Regions from separate parts of the Homo sapiens genome. Here region 1 is linked to region 2. Evidence: fine-mapped expression QTL. Tissue or cell type: tibial nerve. Region 2 holds a variant in brackets; the other region holds the start of a gene. All regions are shown on one strand. Distances are between the middles of the regions.

The links.
Region 1: ABLIM1 starts here. The variant in region 2 is fine-mapped to the expression of ABLIM1 in tibial nerve (GTEx, PIP 0.97).

Annotation. Positions count from the first base shown.
Region 1 is chr10:114,653,246-114,662,940 of GRCh38, reverse strand. It overlaps ABLIM1 (actin binding LIM protein 1), which reads left to right and starts at 4,666. Exons shown (of 23, transcript NM_002313.7): 1 at 4,666-4,984. The coding sequence starts at 4,741. LOC124902588 (small nucleolar RNA U13) reads right to left here and starts at 6,446; the gene lies at 6,347-6,446.
Region 2 is chr10:114,692,923-114,702,617 of GRCh38, reverse strand. It overlaps a transcript of ABLIM1 not described here. Among named protein-coding and RNA genes, the nearest start is that of ABLIM1, 39 kb to the right of the region's middle. The variant A/G (reference allele first, on the strand shown) is at 5,246.

The DNA.
Region 1 (9,695 bases), 40 kb after region 2:
CTGAGCTGATCTTCATCTGTGGCTGCTTCCTTGAAGTCATTCCAAGCCTGCCTCTCATTCCTCTTTGGGAACGTTGCCTATGCAGTGTATTGTCAGAGAGTAATTTGAGACACTTGGTGCCTGTTAAACTAATTACGCTTCAGTCCTCAGAGTGCCATGGTGCTCTCAATCCTGAATGCTCAGCAGATTTTATGTAGTATCTGAATTATTAATGGAGAAGATATGGAAGAGGGTGTTTGGCTGCTTGTTCCATTTTGAGCAGGTCTTGGGCAAGTGGCATTACGGGAAGAGAAGCAGCTGCATGCAGAGGGATGGAGGAAGCAGGCCTTTCAGAGGAGACCTGCCCAGACCGGAGCATATGCCAGTATGCTCAGAAAATCACAGCCTGCTTTGGAGGGATGGGTAAGACCCTTTAAACATTGGGCTTTGCAGAGAAGATGCCCAGGGCTGACCATGCAGAAGGACTGAACTTTAGGACTTACGGGGAGCAGGGAGCAGGGATAGCCGCTGCTGAGCAGGAGAACCTCAAATGGGCCGAGTCGTCACTGTCTGGAAGTCCAATTGCACCCCTTTTTCACAGCCTTCCCACTGAATCTGTTCTGTTTAGCAGCAAAGATCATCCTGACTTGTGAGCAACTGCAGGTGTTTTTGGAAGGCATGCTGAGCTCTTTTTGTTCTTTCATTTTGATTAAAAAACAACAACAAAAATGAAAAGTAACCCCATTATCACTGATGAGGCCACAGGCTAACTGCAGAACATTTCCTTAGCAAACTAAATTCCAGAAATATTGGCATCGTAAGGTGGCAATTTGCTCTCTGAGAAAATTTTATTCTTTAGTGAGAAGCAAGTAGATCCTAGCAGATGATTTAAGCAGGGAGGGGATACTTGTCTGAGAAAAAAGACTTAAATCACTATATAGAATAAAGTCCATGTTCATTTGTGGAGAATCACTGTGACTGATGAAGAAAGAGCAGTAATTGAGGCATCTGTTCGCCGAGCACTGTGTAGCCCCAAAACACCTGGCTTTGGGCTGGGGCTCATCACATCAGGTGTTTATTGAGCTCCTACAGCATGCAAAGGCTGGGTGTCCTCAGTGCCCCTTGGTGAATTTTCCCACTGATGGTTCATTTTCATAGTCTATCATAGAAGAGCTTGAGTAGGTACAGTGGAACTGCTTCTAGAAAGATTAGGAATTTCCTATCTGATAAGATACACAGGCCAGCAAAATCTTGGGCAGAAGTTCAACATTTGTAATTATCATTAGCTTTGTAATGTGGTGCATTGTGATATCATATCATAGAACCATAGAAACGGTCACAAAACCCACTGCACTCCTTTGTGATTGCTGTGACTGTAGTTTTATGTGGGCTGTGGCAGAAGGCAGCAGTGAAAGACCTGAATCCACTGGTGCTTCTTTAGGGTCTTCCCCAACTGTGCTTTCCTGGGTGAAGAGGTTGCTGTCAGGCAGATACCACTGCAAGTCTATTTTTAAGACTGGAGGCTTGGCCTCTGCTAGGTATTTAACTGGAGCCATGTGGAGGAGGGTAAGTGAAAAGCTCTGAGCACTTGGGGAGTGGAACTTAGTTCACAGGTGTCTGCAGTCACTGCTGCCAGCATCTGAACTCTCATCCCTCTCCACTGCCTGAGAATGGAGTCAGCCCCCTCACATTTATATGTAGTTCGGTTGTCTTTAAAAGCAAGCAACCATTTGTTTTTCTCATTAGCCGTCTTCATGATCCATATGTAGTTTGCTTTGCATCTTGACCTAAAAAAGTATCAAAATTCTTACGTATAATTCCGTTATTGAATAAGAATTTATTTTCTTTTCCTTTTCGCAGTCTCTTAGAAGACAGTTGCATCTTGAACTAAATATATGGATCTGTAAACTTGTAAAAAAAAAAATTTAGGAGTGTTCTGTGCATGCTCTGCAGCTACAATGGCTAAGCACTGAGGTAGAGTTAATGCAGTGGAAATAGTTTTTGTGGGCAATGCTTGATGAGTTTAGGGACCAAGAAAGCCGAACAGCTTTGTTATGGAAGAGTTACCTTTTTTCCAGGTCAGGAAGATGCTGGGTTTGAAGGAAATAGTCTCTTTTCTGTCCAAAGTCTGTGTTTGTGCATTGTTACTGTGTTCCAGAGCCTGCCTTCAAAGTGGCTGTATCATGTTCCTCTATATAAACACATCTATATTTCACAAAAAGACCATGTAAGCACATATAAGCAAGTAGCTGCTCAGGTTCTCAGTTTGCAAAGAGCAGAGCTCCAGGAAACCCAGCAAGAAAGAATTAACAATGAAAGGCAGGGGTTCCCACACTACGATGTTTATTACAAAACACTCTAGAAGAACCTGGTAGGGCTGAGGTGGCCCTCGGGGATCTCCATCTTAAACAAATTGGCCCAGAAATCACATTTTGGGAAATACGGTTTTTTTTTTGATGGATGAATGCCACTTTTTTTTTTTCCAGTTGTATTTCTTTTCTTTTCTTTTTTTAAATTTCAATAGTTTTGGAGGGATCAGGTGATGTTTGATGACATGGGTAAGTTCTGTAGTGGTGCTTTCTGAGATTTTGGTGCACCCATCACCCTAGCAGTGTACACTGCACCTAATGTTTAGTCTTTTATCCCTTACCCTCATTTTGAGAAACATTGATAGAACATCTTACATTGTATATCTGAAGGTTCCTCAAAATAGGCAAACAGGGAAAAGAACACATACAGATTGTTTGACCTGCTTTGTAAACTGTTTTTAGAGGAAGACTTTGGAGGTTGGTGTTGGGCTTAATTCCCAGAATTTTGGAGCAGAAATTTTGAGGTGTGACTTCAGTAGTGGTAGAAGTCCCATGTTCCCACTTTCCCCAAGTCCACCTCAGTCTGAGTGCCTCTAGACAGCGTCTGTTTCTTCCATTCCCACCGTGCTTCACATTGGCATAGAATAATTCTAGCAAATTGGAATTCTCAGGTTCTTGAATTGTGTTGCCAATAGATTAGGAACTTGTAACAAAAGAAGCAAGAATTTCCTTTCTCTGCTTCATCTGCCTGGGGCCTTTGTGGAAGGACCCGACTATTGGATAGGAAGAGTCAGCATGGGAGGCAGAAGACCCGGCTCCACCCTAGGCTCTCTGCATTGTCCTGAGAAAGTCACATCTTCTCTGAGACTCACCTTCCTCATCTTAAAGGCTGGCGTAGATCAGTGCTTCCTGAGTGCTGGCACTAGTCTGGGAGAATGTTTAGAAATGTAAATGATGAGTTAATGGGTGCAGCACACCAACATGGCACATGTATGCATATGTACCTGCACATTGTGCACATGTATCCTAGAACTTAAAGTATAAAAAAAGAAAAGAAATGTAAGTTCCTGACCTTTACGTGCAAGAATCCCGTATATATATATTTTGTATTTTTCAAAAGTTCTACAGATTTTTTGTTTTGAGACAGAGTCTTGCCCGGTCACCTAGGAGTACAGTGGCACAATCATAGCTCACTGTAACCTCAAACTCCTGGACTCAACCAATCCTCCTGCCTCAGCCTCCCGAGTAGCTGGGACTACAGATGCATGACACCACACTTGGCCAATGTTTTAATTTTTTTTTTTTTTTCTGTAGAGACAGAGTCTTGCTATGTTGCCAGGGCTGGTCTCGAAGTGGCCTCAAGCAATCCTCCCACCTCAGCCTCCCAAAGTGCTAGGATTACAGACGTGAGCAACCGCACCTGCAGATGGTTCTTATGCACAGCAATATTTGGGAACTACTGGACTAGATTACCTTTGATGGCCTTGTCAGCTCTATAATTCTATTCTAGGGTTTTAATGAAAAGGAATTTATATTAGAACATAATAGCCCAATGACAGGAGAAGGAGTGTGAGTTTATTCATTTTGACTTGGGACTTTTGTATGGTTGTAGACGGTCACATTTTGTACTGCATCTTACTGTGTGGATGTTAAAGAGTAAATGATAATTACTGGGGTTGTCCTTTTTATATCAATACACTAATTCCATGAAGGTCCTTCTAGCTTGTAACTTTGTGTAAAGCTGAAGCTACCTACATGTTAATTCTGTCTCCATCATATGATTCTGCCATCACAGAAAACCCATGAAACATTACGACAGTAAACATTGGCTTAATGGAATGAGGCAGAAGGATTTTCCTGGTACTGAGGGGAGGGGTCCCCTTCTAGAAAATGGAAAGGAAATGATCGTTTACTATGGCTGAGAGCTGGATTTGTCACGAATTGAAGCTGAGGATCTTTATCGAGCCTTCCCCACCTCCACCTGTGAGATCTGAAATACTGGAAAACTTGGAATTATTACCCTGGGATTTTTCTGATAGACATTTTTAGATTATATAAAATATGTGTATATATCCCTAGCCCTATTCTCAGTACTCTTACCAGATGATACTGAATATTCTAGGAGTATTTGCAGGAGAATTCTTTTAGATATTGCAGTTATATTCTTTCTCTTATTCTGGATATTAATCTGATTTTCAAATATGCATTCATGTCTGAGACTGAAAGTCTCGAGTTCCTGGTAGTGGCTGTTTTTATACCTAGTCATCTGACTGAGAATATGGTGCCCTAAGCTCTTGAGGGTAATCACTTAAATACATCTCCCTTAATCTTCTTTGCTGGGCAGTGAGAAAAGGAGACAGTAAGGAGCCAGGGGAACAGAGAGAATTGTGGGGCAGCACCGCTCCTTGGGTCCCCACTCCCCATTTCTCATTGCTTGGAAATCCATGCCAAGATGCCTGCCTTCCTTGGTCTAAAGTGTCTGGGGAAATTGTGCAGCTCTGAGAAAAGCAAAGTCACCTCATCTGAGAGAACCAGTGCCAGGGGCTCGAACAGAAAGAGACTGATTGTTGAGGACCGGAGGGTCTCTGGGACCTCCTTCACCGCTCATAGGCGTGCCACTATCACTCATTTGCTGTATCTCTGTCCCAAGGACTACTGCCCACGTGGGCGTGTATGTAACAGCGTTGATCCTTTTGGTAAGTAAAATAACCCTCTCTGGACATGGTTTTGTGTTTTGTGATTGGCGTAATTAAGAGAGTACTATCCAGATCATTCTTCTGTAATGTGTTCTTCAAAGGAAACACTATCCTTAATATATAATTAATGGGGGTGAGGGTGGGAGAGATGGAGAATGTAACATAAGTGTAGCTACGGAGCTAAATCCCAAGGATATTTTTGTCCAGGATTTTATGATCTTCAGTAACAAATGTATCTCTTTCCAAACTTGGTATGAATAATTGTCAGTAATAGGAAGTATGATGGAAAAGAAAGATCTCTATCTGTAGATGTTATTATTTCATATGACAAAGGATGAATGGAAAGGAAATATTCAAGGGGGGAGATGGAGGCTAGCAAAAGATAAGTAAAGTTGAGGTCCAAATTGTGTCACTGTGTAGGGAGGGCTCGTCTTGTGAAATGTTCTAAAAAAGAAATAAAATAAAAAGAAAGTGTTTTAATATTGAGAGAACTTGTTGAGGCTTCTTTTCAGTGAAGCTCATTAAAACGTGTCACTCATCCCTCTGCCTGGGAAAGAGGTGGAGAAGGCCCACTCTGAGGATAGAGTTATTGCACTTGGGAGTTTTCAGACTTTGAAGTTATCATGGTGCCTTTGTTAATGAAGATGATACCTACCCAACTGCTCACACCTTGTCAAAGTCAGACCTAGAATTGGTACAGGAAGCAGAAGGCAATTAACCATGGTCCCTACGAATGTATGAAGTTAAGTCAAATAAGCCAGGAAGCATAACGCATTCCTCGTCATTCTTGGACAGCCAGAGTTGAATTGGATTCAGTTTAGCTGAAGTACTGGAGTTAAGATGTTCTGTTTTGTTGCAATCAGCTTTCAACAGCTTTATTGAGTTATAATTCATATGCTGTAAAATTCATCCATTTAAAGTCTATAGTTCAGCGAGTTTTAGTATGCAACTGATATGTTACATATATATTTTCATTGCCTCAAAAAGAAACCCTGTACCCTTTAGCTATCGCCTCCCCACCCCAACCTCTTCATCCCCATCTCTCAGCCTTAAGAAATCAAAATCTACTTTCTGCCTCTTAGATTTCCCTATTCTGGATATTTCATGTGAATGGAATTTATAATCTGTGGTCTTTCGTTTATGGCTTCTTTCACTTAGCATGTTTTCAGGGTTTACCCATGTTGTAGCACGTGTCAGTACTTTATTCCTTGTTATGGCCAAATACTATTTCACCGTATAGATATTCCACAATTTGTTTCTGCTTACACCAGCTGATGGACATTTGGGATGTTTCCAACTTTTGGATTTTATGAATAATGCCTCTATGCATATCCATATACAAGGTTTTTTTTTCTTTTTTCGTGTCAGATGGGTAATGTGCCAATGTCATAACAAGGTTCGAGGGTGGCTCACCTCACACACGCGTGTGTGAACACATCAAAAGGATCATCATATACAGGTTTTTATGTGGACATATGATATGTTCAGGGCTCTTGGGTGTATACCTAGGTGTGGAATTTCTGGGTCATATAATAACTATGTCTAACCTTCTGAAGGACTTCTAGATTATTTCACAAAGCAGTTACTCCATTTTACATTCCCACCAGCAGCATATTAAGGTCCCAGTTTCTCCACATCCTTGCTAACACTTGCTATTATCTGCCTTTTTTTTTTTTTTTTTTTTTTTGAGACGGAGTTTTGCTTTGTTGCCCAGGCTAGAGTGTAATGGCGTGATCTCGGCTCACTGCAACCTCTGCCTCCTGAGTTCAAATGATTCTCCTGCCTCAGCCTCCCAAGTAGTTTGGATTACCGGCATGTGCCACCACACCTGGCTAATTTTGTATTTTTAGTAGAGATGGGGTTTCACCATGTTGGCCAGGCTGGTCTGGAACTCCTGACCTCAGGTGACCTGCCTGCCTCCACCTCCCAAAGTGGTGGGATTATAGGCATGAGCCACCGCGCCCGGCCTTATCTGACTTTTTTATTCTAGCCATCCTAGTGGGTGTGAAGCGGTATCTCACTGTGCCTATACAGAGCTTTGGCTGGGACAGAGAGGGCTGACAAGCAGATCAGTGCTCAGGCAAGACAGGATACCGACTTCGACAGCTGCTGATGGTAACAGCTCCTTGTCTCTTACTCTTAACAGTCTTCTCTTCATGATTCCAGGCACATTCCTTTTTAGGGGAGCAGGGAGCGGGGATGAAGAAGCCATGCCTTCTGCCCAGTCCCCTTACAAGCTCTGCTAAGAAGACTTTGTTCAGAACCAGCTGAGTATGCCTATTGTAGCAAATGACACCTCCCTCAAAAATCAGATCCACATACTAGGGGATACCTAGAATCCCTTTATTGAGGAAAAAATGTTTTATTCCACAAATAGGAATAAAAATGAAACATGTAGATTTCTGCTGGAGCTAACACTTTATTCTGAATGACTTCGATGCTTCTATGGAATGTTTCTACTCAAACAGACTCAAATCAGATATTTTTGGAATGAGCCACTGTTGCTCTTGAAAGAGATAAGATCTGTTGGGAGGAGAAGGCAGGAAGGCAAGGGGAAGCCAGGTAAGCTGTAGTTTAATGAAAGCATGCTGGATAATGACTTATCAGCAGATTCCCTCACTTGGGAACAAGAGAATTAACAGTATCCGAGAGAGTTCTGGATACAGGAAAGGTAATCATCATTGGGATATCCATATCTTAGTGGAGGCAGATAAGGAAATCTGGGAGATTAGTTAAGTGTGGCTTTGAGGTTGGACATTCCAGAATTTGACTCCCAGCTCTTCTACTCACTAAATGTGTTACTTTGGGAAGTTAGTGATTCCAAGTGCGTTTCTCTGTCCCTAAGGTAGGCAGGGAATGCATACCTTATAGGATTGCTTTGAGCAGGCCTATCCCTAGAGTAGATGGGGCCCTGGGCAGATTTTTTTTGTAGGGCTCCTGTCTATATAAACAATTTGAGTCACCCAAAGCAGTGTGTCAACAGCTCAATCTGTTTCAGTCTTGGGAAAGAAATGCCACACCAGCCTGAGGAAGTGATTGCTTGCTAGGCTTGTCCCCTAGAATGGAGCCAGCTCCAGGGCCCCAAGAAACCCATTGGCATGACTCCTGGGGCTCCTTGGGGCATCTGGCCAACCCCTTGCACAGTATGGGAGAGATGCAGAGGATCACTAGAGAGATCTGTGAAGAGGAGGCTCAGATTCCCCATCCAGACAGCACTGCTGGCCCCAGCGATCCCAGGTACCAGAGCGCACTTAGACATTTTTGAGGAAGGAATGGGGTTAGGGCAGGGGCCCTGCTTGCGTGTGTCTAAGGGCAGTATTGATTATGAGAACTAAATGAGAACCTGGCTGGGCATGGTGGTGTGGGCCTATAGTACCAGCTACTTGAGAGGCTGAGGCAGGAGGATCACTTGGGCCTAGGAGTTCAAGACCAGCCTGGGCAAACTTGCAAGACCCTATCTCAATTTTAAAAATTGTAAAAAAAGATAAAAATAAATTTAAAGAATGAGAACGTGCATATCAAAGTGTTTGGTATAGTGGCACACAAAAGCATCCACTAAATGTTAATTTCAGTAATAATAATAGAATTGCAATATAGTCAGCATTAGTCATTTTTGACAGTCTCTATGGAGGCTGAATTAAAATAATAAAATAAGAAAAAATTGTTTATTATTGTTAAAAATAATTTCTATTGTTTGCCTTCCATGCTGTGAAACAATAGAGGCCCAGAACTATAGATGCTGCACAGGACGTGGGATTCCCAGAAAGCCACTGTGTGTTCAGAGCATCCTGTTTAGGACAGGTGCTTGGAGGAAGTGCGCCCTCCTGCAGCCATGCATGTTCCTGTGCTACGAAGCCCCAGAGTGTTCAGGAGCAGCTCCTGGCAGGGTGCTTGGGAATATTTGGCAAAGGCCTCCTCCAGCTGCCAGAAAGATCTCACGATGCTGCAGCTTCCTGTTATTGTCTGGTGCTCAATCCCTGCTTTGAGTTGTGCTGGACTCCATGATTTTCCAAGTGTCCCCATGCATATGTGTCCTTTGTAAAGCTCAAAACAACCCTTGGATGTTGCAAGGGAAGAAATTGTTTTCCCCCACTTAACAACAGCAATGAGTTAGCAAGAAGATGGGAAAAGTGGGCAAAACAAATATATCAGTGAACATACAAAATAGCTTCCGCAAAAATATATCAGTGGGCATATATCAGTGAAATAGATCTGTGAATATACAAAATAGCTTCTGCAAAAATATATCAGTGAGCATATATCAATGAAATAGATCAGTAAACGTACGAAACAGCCTCTGCAGCTTCTGACTGTAGATGTAGTACTGTTCTTGAAGAACGGCTGTCATTCATTGAGGGCCTACTATATCTCAAACATTGTGATAAGTGTCTTTTTTTGTTTGGTTTTGTTTCTGAGACAGGGCCTCCCTCTGTCTCTGAGGCTGGAGTGCAGTGGTGAGAACAGGGCTCACTTCAGCCTTCACCTCTTGAGCTCAAGTGATCTTCTTGCCTCAGCCTCCCATGTAGCTGGAACCACAGGCGCATGCTACCAGGCCTGGCTAATTCTTTGATTTTTTTTTTAGAGACAGGGTCTCACTTTGTTGCCCAGGCTGGTTTAAAACTCCTGACCTCCAACAGTCCTCCTGCTTTGGCTTCCCAAAGTGTTGAGATTACAGGCGCAAGCCACCATACCTCGCCTGTGCCAAGTGTTT
Region 2 (9,695 bases):
GAGGCGGAGCTTGCAGTGAGCCGAGATCGCGCCACTGCACTCCAGCCTGGGAGACAGAGCGAGACTCCATCTCAAAAAAAAAAAAAAAAAAAGTGTTCTTACTTATATATTGTTCAGTGTATAATCATGATAGACCAGTGATTAATGACAAGAAACAAAAAAACACTGATGTTAAAATACAAATGAATCACTTTTATCGTTGAAATTATTTTAATTCTGCAAATTCTTATTCTCAAGTTGATCTTCTCCAGATTTGTATGTTTCATTCATCTCATTAAAATTCTGTAACTCATTAGAATATCTGTAGTATTTCAAAAGCCAACATTTTTTAAAGATCATGTATTAATGATTGTCTTTTTCGTTATTAGCAATATAGGCTTTCACTTGCAATGTGGTATTTACAGAGAAAATATTTGCAAATAGACAACTGAAATCTTATGTTTTAGCTTACTATTCATAAAGACTTAAAGTAATGAAAATCAACCAGCTGAATTTTTTAAGCCCAAACTATTAGAATTCTAAACATCTTGTCATGTTGCTGTAATGCATAGTTAAAATTCAGTGTACATTTTTTACTTTGCATATGTTTGAATATTTCTATGATAAACAATAAAAAAATAGTATAATGAACCTCAAGTACCCATCGCCCAGCTTCAACACTCTGCCATTCTTATTTTTTCTAAATTTCTACATCCTCTCTTATTTTTAACAGTTGTTTTTAAGGCATAATTGACATACATTGAAATGTAAGAATCTTGGCTATAGAAGTTTTACAGATAGATACACCTATGTCACCCATAGACCTCTATCACAATATTGAATATTTTCATATCTCCAGAAATTCTCTTGTGTTCTTTGTCAGTGAATCCTCTCACTCCCAGACAATCAAGGTCCTAATTAGATTAGCCTTTTCTAGAACTTCACATAAATTGACTCATATACTACGCACTGTTTTGTGTAAGGCTTTTTCCACTCAGTGTAAGGTCTGTGTGATGCCTCCATTTTGTTGTGTATGGGAGTAGTTCATTCCTTTTTATTGCTGAGTAATATTCCATTATATAGGTATATCACAATTTGATTATCCATTCTATTGATGGACATTCTTGTTGTTTATAGCTATTTACTAATATGAATAAAGCTGCTGTGAACATTCTTGGAAAAGTCTTTTTTGTGGATTTATGTTTTCATTTCTCTTGGTAAAAGATCTAGATGTGGAATTGCTAGGTCGGAGGGTAGGTGTATATTTATAATAAGAAAAATTGTCAAACATTTTTCAAAAACTGTTGTAACCATTTTATATTCTCACTAGAAATGTATTAGAGTTACAATTGTCTCACATCCTCACCAATATTTGGTATTTTAATTTGGCATAGTGGTATCTTGTTGTGATTTTTACTTTGCATTTACCTCATGGCTAATTATTTGAGAACTTTTTAATGTGGATAATGGTCATTTGCATATCTAACCTTGTGAAGTATCTATTCAAGTCTCTCTACCCCTCTGTTTTTAACCTGCATTATTTTTCTTATTGAGTTGTAGGAGTTTTTTTTAAAATGTATTCTAAATACAGGTTATATGTCTGCTTTATGTTTTGCACATACTTTTCTCCCAGCCTGAGGTTTGCCTGTTTATTTTCTTAATAGTGTCTTTTGATGAATGGAGTGTTTAATTTTGGTGAAGTTTAATGTATCAATTTTTATACATTTTTGTGATTTTATTATCCTATCCAAGGAGTTTTTGCCTAATCCCAGGATATCAAAGGTATTCTATATTTTTATGACACTATTAGAGATTTAGATTTTAAGTTTACATCTATGATTCCTCTCAAAATAATTTTTGTATATGGTGTGAGGTAGGGGTTGAGGTTAATTTTTTTTTTTCACAGGGATATATAATTGTTCCAGCCTCATTTGTTGAAAAGATTCCCTTCCTCATTGAATTGCACTGGGGCCTTTGCAAAGAACCAGTCAATCATTTATAAGTGTAGATCTGTTTCTGGAATTCCTATTCTGTTTCAATGATTAATTTGTCTTTCATTATGGCAATACTACATCATCTTAATTATGCCATGTAGAGTAAGTTCTCCATCTTTGAGTGTATGTGTGTGTGTGTGTGTGTGTGTGTGTTTTAATTGTTTTTGGCAATCCTAGGCCCTTTACATTTTCATGTCTATTTTAAAACCAGTTTGTCAACTTTTATCTAAAACACCTGCTGAGAATATTATTAGGGTTACATTGAATTCATGAATTAATTTCAGAGAAATAAGGATCTTATATATTGAACCTTATAATCCATAGACATGATATATATCTTTACTAATTTAGGTTTTCTTTAATTTACCTCAGTGATTATTTGTAGTGTTCTATGTAGATCATTCTCTCTCAGTGAGGTTTTACAAGAGAAGTAATCCATAATGCTCGAATGCATCCTTCATATGTAATGAATTAACTTATTGCTTATGCATCTGGAAATGTATTAGCTTGTTAGACTTCTTTGGTAGAATCAAGAGTAGAGTCACAGGTTGGATGTGGTGACTTGTGCCTATAATCCCAGCAACTTGGGAGGCTGAGGTGGGAGGATTGCTTGAGTCCAGGAGTTCAAAGACCAGCTTGGACAACATAGTGAGACCCCATCTGAAAAAAAACAAAGAATAGAATCATTAAAATAACTTTTTGCTTAATTCTCTCATGGATTGGGGCAACATCTTGCAATACTGTGGTATAATATCACAACCAGTATATTGACACCAATTCAGTCAAGATATACAACAGTTTCATCACCACAAGGATCCTTTGGGCTGCCCTTTTATAGCAGACATAACTGTTTATAAAAGTTTACTTTTTACTTCTGGATGGTAATACTATAATTCTAAATAATATGTTTGGATTTATATTTATTTCAACAATGTCTCTCAATTGGTTTTAATGTTCACTTCCAGAGTTTTATTAGTTTTAAATCTACCATTGATATAGAGCCATTTTATAACTCTAAATAATATACTGCTATTTTTTATCTGACTCTACATAATACCTTCTTACCCCTATTAGGTAGAATGAGGACATTATCACCCTTCCACCTCACTTCTCTTCTCCTACCCACACTTTCTGTCTTCTGACTGCTGTCAGAAGACACCTTACTTTTACATTGTCAAGGTTTATATATTTTAAATCTAACTTTTATGCTTTCTTTTTTATTATAAGTTGATTTTTAGAGCTGAAAACCAATATAAATTATCTGTAACATTAAAATTATGCAAATATTCTTCACTGCAGAAGCAGACACTGTGACTGGACCCTTAGAGAAGGAATTATTCTGAGCATTAAATCTGTCTTGCTCAAAGTACATGTTTAAGCATTATTAAAGCATCATCCAAGGGCCCTTTTCCAACAACCTCCTTTTTTTTTCTCAAAATTTTATGACTCTTTAGTTTGCTTCATATTTAGATTATGGTTTTTTATACAGATTTTTAATTTACATAAAGCTTTTAATTCCAATTCTTTTTTTTTTTTTTTTGCTAAGCAAAATGAATTTATTAATAGCATTACTAAGATCGTCCAGGCTCTGAATCATAACTTGTTGAATGAAATCTACTTTCTTGAAGATGTTTTCTTGGAGACTCTATCTTCTAATTTGGACTCACTGGCTTCTAGATCTGTTATATAGCTGTCACTGTGGGATTCCCCCTAATCCCATTTTATTTCTAAATGAATTCCACATTTTCTTGGAATCTGCAGTTTTCTTTTTGGGAATTAGTTTTTTCTCCTGTGTGAGTCAGTCTTCAAGTAATTTTTTTCAGTAAGGGTGCATAAGAGGTAAGTGGAATCCTTCCCTGTCTGAAAATTTCTTATTTTCTCCACATGCTGAATTGTTTTCTTCTGACTTCACAGTGACTGCCAAGCCTCATGGTAGTCTGAGTCCTTTTCCCTTCTTGGTAACCTGAACTGGTATCTGATAGCTTTTAGGGTGTTCTCTGTATGTTCAGAGTTCTAAAATTACACCAGTGTATGTCTAGCTATTTTGTCATTTTTCTTCATCCTGTCCAGCACTTAGTTTGTTCTTTCATTCTGAAACTTGTGTCTTCCTTCAGGACTGGAGAATTCTGTTTTTTTCAGTTTCTCTCCTTTACTTTCTTTGTCCTCTCTTTTTGGAACTCCTATTCAATAGATATTGGACCTCTTCCATATCTCTTAATTCTTTTTTTTTTTTTTTACATTTTTAATCTCCTTTATTTTGCTCTACTTTATGGGAGGGTTTCTTGACATTTTGTTTTCTAGCCTGTCTGTTGCATTTCTTTTTATTTTCATAATTGTTATTTTTTTATTTCTGTAAACTCTCTTTTTCTGTGATTGCTCTTTTAATTTTTTCCCAGATTAGCTTCATGGATACAGTTTGTTCTCAAATGCCTTAGAGGATATCAATTTGAATTTTTATTTAGTTCTTTTCTTCTGTTGCTTAAATTATCTATTTTCTCTAGAATCATGTGTTTGTGTATTCATCTTGGTCCAATTTTGTGCTTTTGTTTTCCTTAAATGTCTTAGTGATTCTTTTTTTTGGTATATGTTAATTAACTAATAGGGGGATTAATACAGAGATTTCTATGTGGGGGATTAATGTTTCCTCCTGTCTTTTTGCTGGTGTAATTTTCCTCTATAGTTGTATTAGTTTGCAACCACAAGAGATCTCTAAAATGTAATCTTCAGTATATTCAATAATATATTGATTTAAAATCATTACTTTAAAGCACTTATTTATCACATACCAAATGAAATGGCAAAATGATCTTTTAAAACCCTAAGGAAGATGATATAATTTTATATTAATATGAGAAGGTTTTGAGAACCAAGCTTAAAACTTGATGATATGAGGAATAGCTGGATTACTAAAATTGAAAATTAGGGCTATCTAAGTTAATGGATTTATTGATGGGCATAGGTTTTCTTTTTAACAGCAAATATCACTCTTGTTCTGTTTCTATTGTGTCATGATTTGGATACCTATAAACCCCAAATACCTAATTTGTTTTTAGAAGCCATTGGCACACACCCTGTGTGAAGTGAGCACCTCCTGACAGGTTCACGCTGTGCAGGTTTTCCTCCCTCCTACTCGCTGGCATTTACGGTGCCACTGCCCCGGGCTGAGTGGGCTGGCCCGGAGGCTGGCTCTGGTCCCCAGCCCCTACTGCTGGGCAGATCAGCTGCTTCGAAAACCGCGTGCCAGCTCCTGAGGGCTGATCACCACTTGCCCC[A/G]GGGCAGGAGAAGCCTTGCAGGCTGCCAGATCTGAGTTCTTTAGTTTGTACTTTTGAGTAACTGGTTGTGTCTCTGACTCAGACTGTTTTATGAGTGCCACTTAAATTCTCAAAAAACCAGAGTGGCCTTACTTAAGCTGTGATGAGCGGAGTGTGGGAAGGAAGGTGGGTTGGGTTGGTGGACAGTGAGGCTGAGAATTGTTTTTCTCTGATCCCATGGAGCAGAAATGAGAAGGGAAGGGGCGTGTTTTGTGTCTGACCTGGAATTTTGTTCTCTTCCTTCCTCCCCCAGAGTGCCCTGAGTCATGAGGCCGAGAGATTCAGATTACTGTGAATTCTAGTTCTTATTGAACCCAGAATGGACCAGAAGGCCTCAGCATAGCCCTAGGACTTAGTGATCCATTCAGCATCTGTTATGAGTTGAATTATGTCTCCTCCAAATTTCTATGTTGCAGCCCTAACTCCCAGTATCTCAGGATGTGCCTATATTTGGAGACAGGCTCTATAAAGAGGTAATGTAGTTAAAATAGCCTAATCCAGTATGAATGGTATATTAGTTCATTTTCACACTGCTGATAAAGACATACCCGAGACTGGGTAATTTATAAAGGAAAAGAGGTTTAATGGACTCACAGTTCCATGTGACTGGGGAGGCCTCACAATCATGGCAGAAGGTGAAAGGCATGTCTTACATGGTGGCAGGCAAGAGAGAATGAGAGCCAAGCAAAAGGAGAAACCCCTTATAAAACCATCAGATCCCATGAGACTTATTCACTACCATGAGAACAGTATGGGGGAAACTGCCCCATGATTCAATTATTTCCCACTGTGTCCCTCCCACAACACATGAGAATTATGGGAGCTACAATTCAAGATGAGATTTGGGTGGGAACACAGCCAAACCATATCAAATGGTGTCCTTATAAGAAGAGGAAATCTGGGCACAGAGACAGAGAGACCAGACACATCTGTGCAATGAAGCTCATCCATGTGAGGTCACAGCAAGAGGGCTGTCATCTGCAAGCAAGAAGAGAGGGCTTAGAAGAAACAAAACCTGCCATCATTTTGGTCTTGGACTTCTATAGCCTGTGGTATTTTGTTGTTGTCATCTTAGCAACTAATATAGCATTTTTAGCCAAGAAATCCTGCTTTGTTCCCTGCTGCCCTCTCCAGGGATGGAGGAGGGAGGCATTCCCTGGGTGGAGCCTGGGCAAGGAGCCCTCATCACTGGATCCTAAAACCTGTGTCTCTGATTTTCCATAGACACTGGGGCTATCAAGGAAAGATTTTTGACTCATCTTGCCAAGTTCTAAACTATTTGGATATCAAACTTGGGTAAAGACCTAGTGAGGAAATCAGGGAGGCTGTAGTTAGGAGAATTTCACAGGCATGCAGAAGTAATGTCATGTAGGATGCTAGCTGAGATGTGTGGATAAGCATCAGTTGCCACATTGATGGGGCGATGGCAATAAGAGTCTGGAAACTCTGTTTTCCCAAAGAAACTGACATCCTCATAATCTCTTACGATCAGAGATCAAAATTTGAGGTGCCTTGGTTTGGTTGTACAAAGCTTCATACATGGAAATCCTTCTTTCTGTTGGATGTGTTTTATTTCCAACAGAAATAAAATGCCATGGCATTGTCTCCAATGCCATTGCATTATCATTGCCATTTCTAGCAGCAGAATTCTTTAATTTGAAAAAGTTGTTGAATTGTAATGGACCCAGTTCTAACCTAAGTTTCAGGTCAGTGACTTTGTATAATTCATTGGCTCTCTGTGTCTCAGTTTTCCTTATCTGAAAAGGGGGATAATTATTGCTGCTCCCCAGTGCACAGATACATTATTTTGATGTTGTGGGAGTGGGGTTTGAATTTGTAGAAAGAGAATGGATTTCAAAAAGGCCTTCTTTCCCCCATTTAATTTGGTCTTGAGAAAATGATGTAGCCTCTCTGAGCCTCAGTTCTCTCCTCTATAAAATGGGGATAGTAATGGTTACTCCAGTGGGGGGTGTGAGTATTAAATGAGAACATATGGAGAGCACCTTATGTTGATTCCTGCATGTTTTAAGGGCTCTATAAATGTTAGCACTTGATGATGATATTTTAAAATTATTGAAATTACTAACAAAAGGTGAGTTAGTTGCTTTAGATACTTAAGTATTATGCTGTCCCTTAAAGGGGCATCTGCTTAACAGATGGTTAGTTGACCATTTAGCTAATGGAAAGCAGTGTAAGATTTAGGATAATGTATGGAGATGTAACTAGAGAATGAGGTCTTGTTCCTTTGACCTACATGCTAAACTCTCAGTACATACCATCAAGCAGGCTTCCTCTAACTGTAACATGCACATAAATTCCCCGGAAATCTTGTTGAAATGCGAATTCTGATTCAGTACCTGGAGAGTCCGGGTTGGGTGCTGACATTCTGCATTTCTAAGAAGTTCCCAGGTGAGGGCGCTGCTGCGGCTCAATGTCCGGGTTTTGAGCGGCGAGGTCCCAGAGAAGATGGTAGAGCTAGCTATGATCCCAATCTGTAAGTTCCACTTTTTATCAACCAATTATTATTGTCTATCAACTTACATTAAGCTTCAGAAACATTTCATTTTGACTTTTCATGTCAAATTCCCCAGCTCTTGCTACTTTCCTGCCCCTGGCCTCTCTATTTAGTACTTAATGTCTTTTTTTTTCTTGTTTAAAGAATAATAACAATAATGACTAATATTTGTCAGGAATCAGGAACTGTTTCCTTAAATTTTCACAACATCCCATGAGGTAGGTATCATAATTATCCCCATCTTACAGGTGAGAATATGGAGATACGTATAGATAAAATAACTTGCTAAATCACCCAACTAGTGAGTGGTAAACCAGGACTATTTTAAGAGTTTATTTAAAGGAGCCCTTTTGTAAATGAGAATCCCCAGGGATAGCTGGCATAGTGCACCCCCCTTACCAGTTTTTGTTATGCCCCTTTAGGTTTTTGTCACATTTTAGAAAATGTAGAGCCTCCCTTCCAGGAGCCAGCAACTGTGGCATTCATCCAGAATGCAACCCCAAGTGACTGCAGAGTCTAGGAAGTCCGTGATGTTTTCTCAGAGTGGCACCCGGGCCAGAACCCACACAGCTCAGCTGTGGTTTGCTACCTTATGAGTGAAGGCTGTAAGAATGAAGGTCACAGCCAGCAGACAGATCCTGTAGGGTGTGTTCACATCCTTTCCACCTGCTTCTTTCACAATTTGAGTATAAATTCAATTTTTATCAACCGAATATTATTTTCTATTGATTTACTTCTGGAGTACTGACTTCTGAAAACTTCAGAATATTTTTATTTTTCATCTTACATAGGCAGGGCTTTTGCTACTATTCTGCCTGTGGCCTCTGTGTCTAGTACTTTAAAAATGATTAAAATAGACTGGGCATGGTGGCTGATGCCTGTAATCCCAGCACTTTGGGAGGGCAAGGCGGGAGGATGGCTTGAGGCCAGGAGCTCGAGACCAGCCTGAGCAACACAGCAATAACCCAATCTCTACAAAAAAAAAAAAAAAAGTTTTTTTAAAATCAGCCAGGCATGGTAGCATGTGCCTGTGTCCTAGCTGTTTGGGAGGCTGAGGTGGGAGGATCACTTGAGCCTGGGAGTTCAAGGTTACAGTGAGCTATGATCATGCAACTGCACTCCAGCCTGAGTGACAGAGCAAGACCCTGTTTCTGAAAGAAAAAAAAAAAGAAATAAAAAGAAAGAAAGAAAAAACGCTTAAAATTATATCAGCAACAACACCCTACCTGCAAGCCTGCGCTTATATGGCTGTGCGCTGTGCGAGGAAGAGCTGCAGGGGATAGACCTGAACCCTATGATGGATGACAGGGACACGTCCTGTAGGGGCAATGTACTTGGCGATCTGGAGAGAGTGCACGCATGAGAGCATGTTGCTCAGAGCCTGTGGCTGGTCCACTCCTGCCTTGGCTACTCATTCTCTCACTTGCTGTAGTCACTTACACTCACAGGCCTTCATTTTCCTCCTTTTTAAAATGAAAGGATTGGGTAGGTTGGGGATTTTTCAACATGTGTGTTTATTTTTAGCTATGGAACCCTTTCTTCAGATGAAGGCTCACCTGGAAGCCCAGAAAATAAAGCATAAGAGCTGAATTTTCTTTGGTGGAAGTCGGACCCAGAACCAACTCTCTGCCTTCCCCGCGCTGCATCCCTCACCGATCCCAACACAGCCTCCTTCTTCTGTTAGCTAGAAAACAGCTGGCCTAGATAATAGGAAGCCTCCCTTTAGCCTCCACACTGTGCCTGTGCACTCAAAGGAATAAAACATGGGGTTTCAGAAAGCCAGTGTTAGGGAGGAGTATTTGCTAAAGGCAGTTTTGTTTCTAACTCCAGTGGCTGGTTATTATAAACCCTAAAATGATTCAGCAAGGTGTCCTTGGTGTTGACTTATTTATTTTG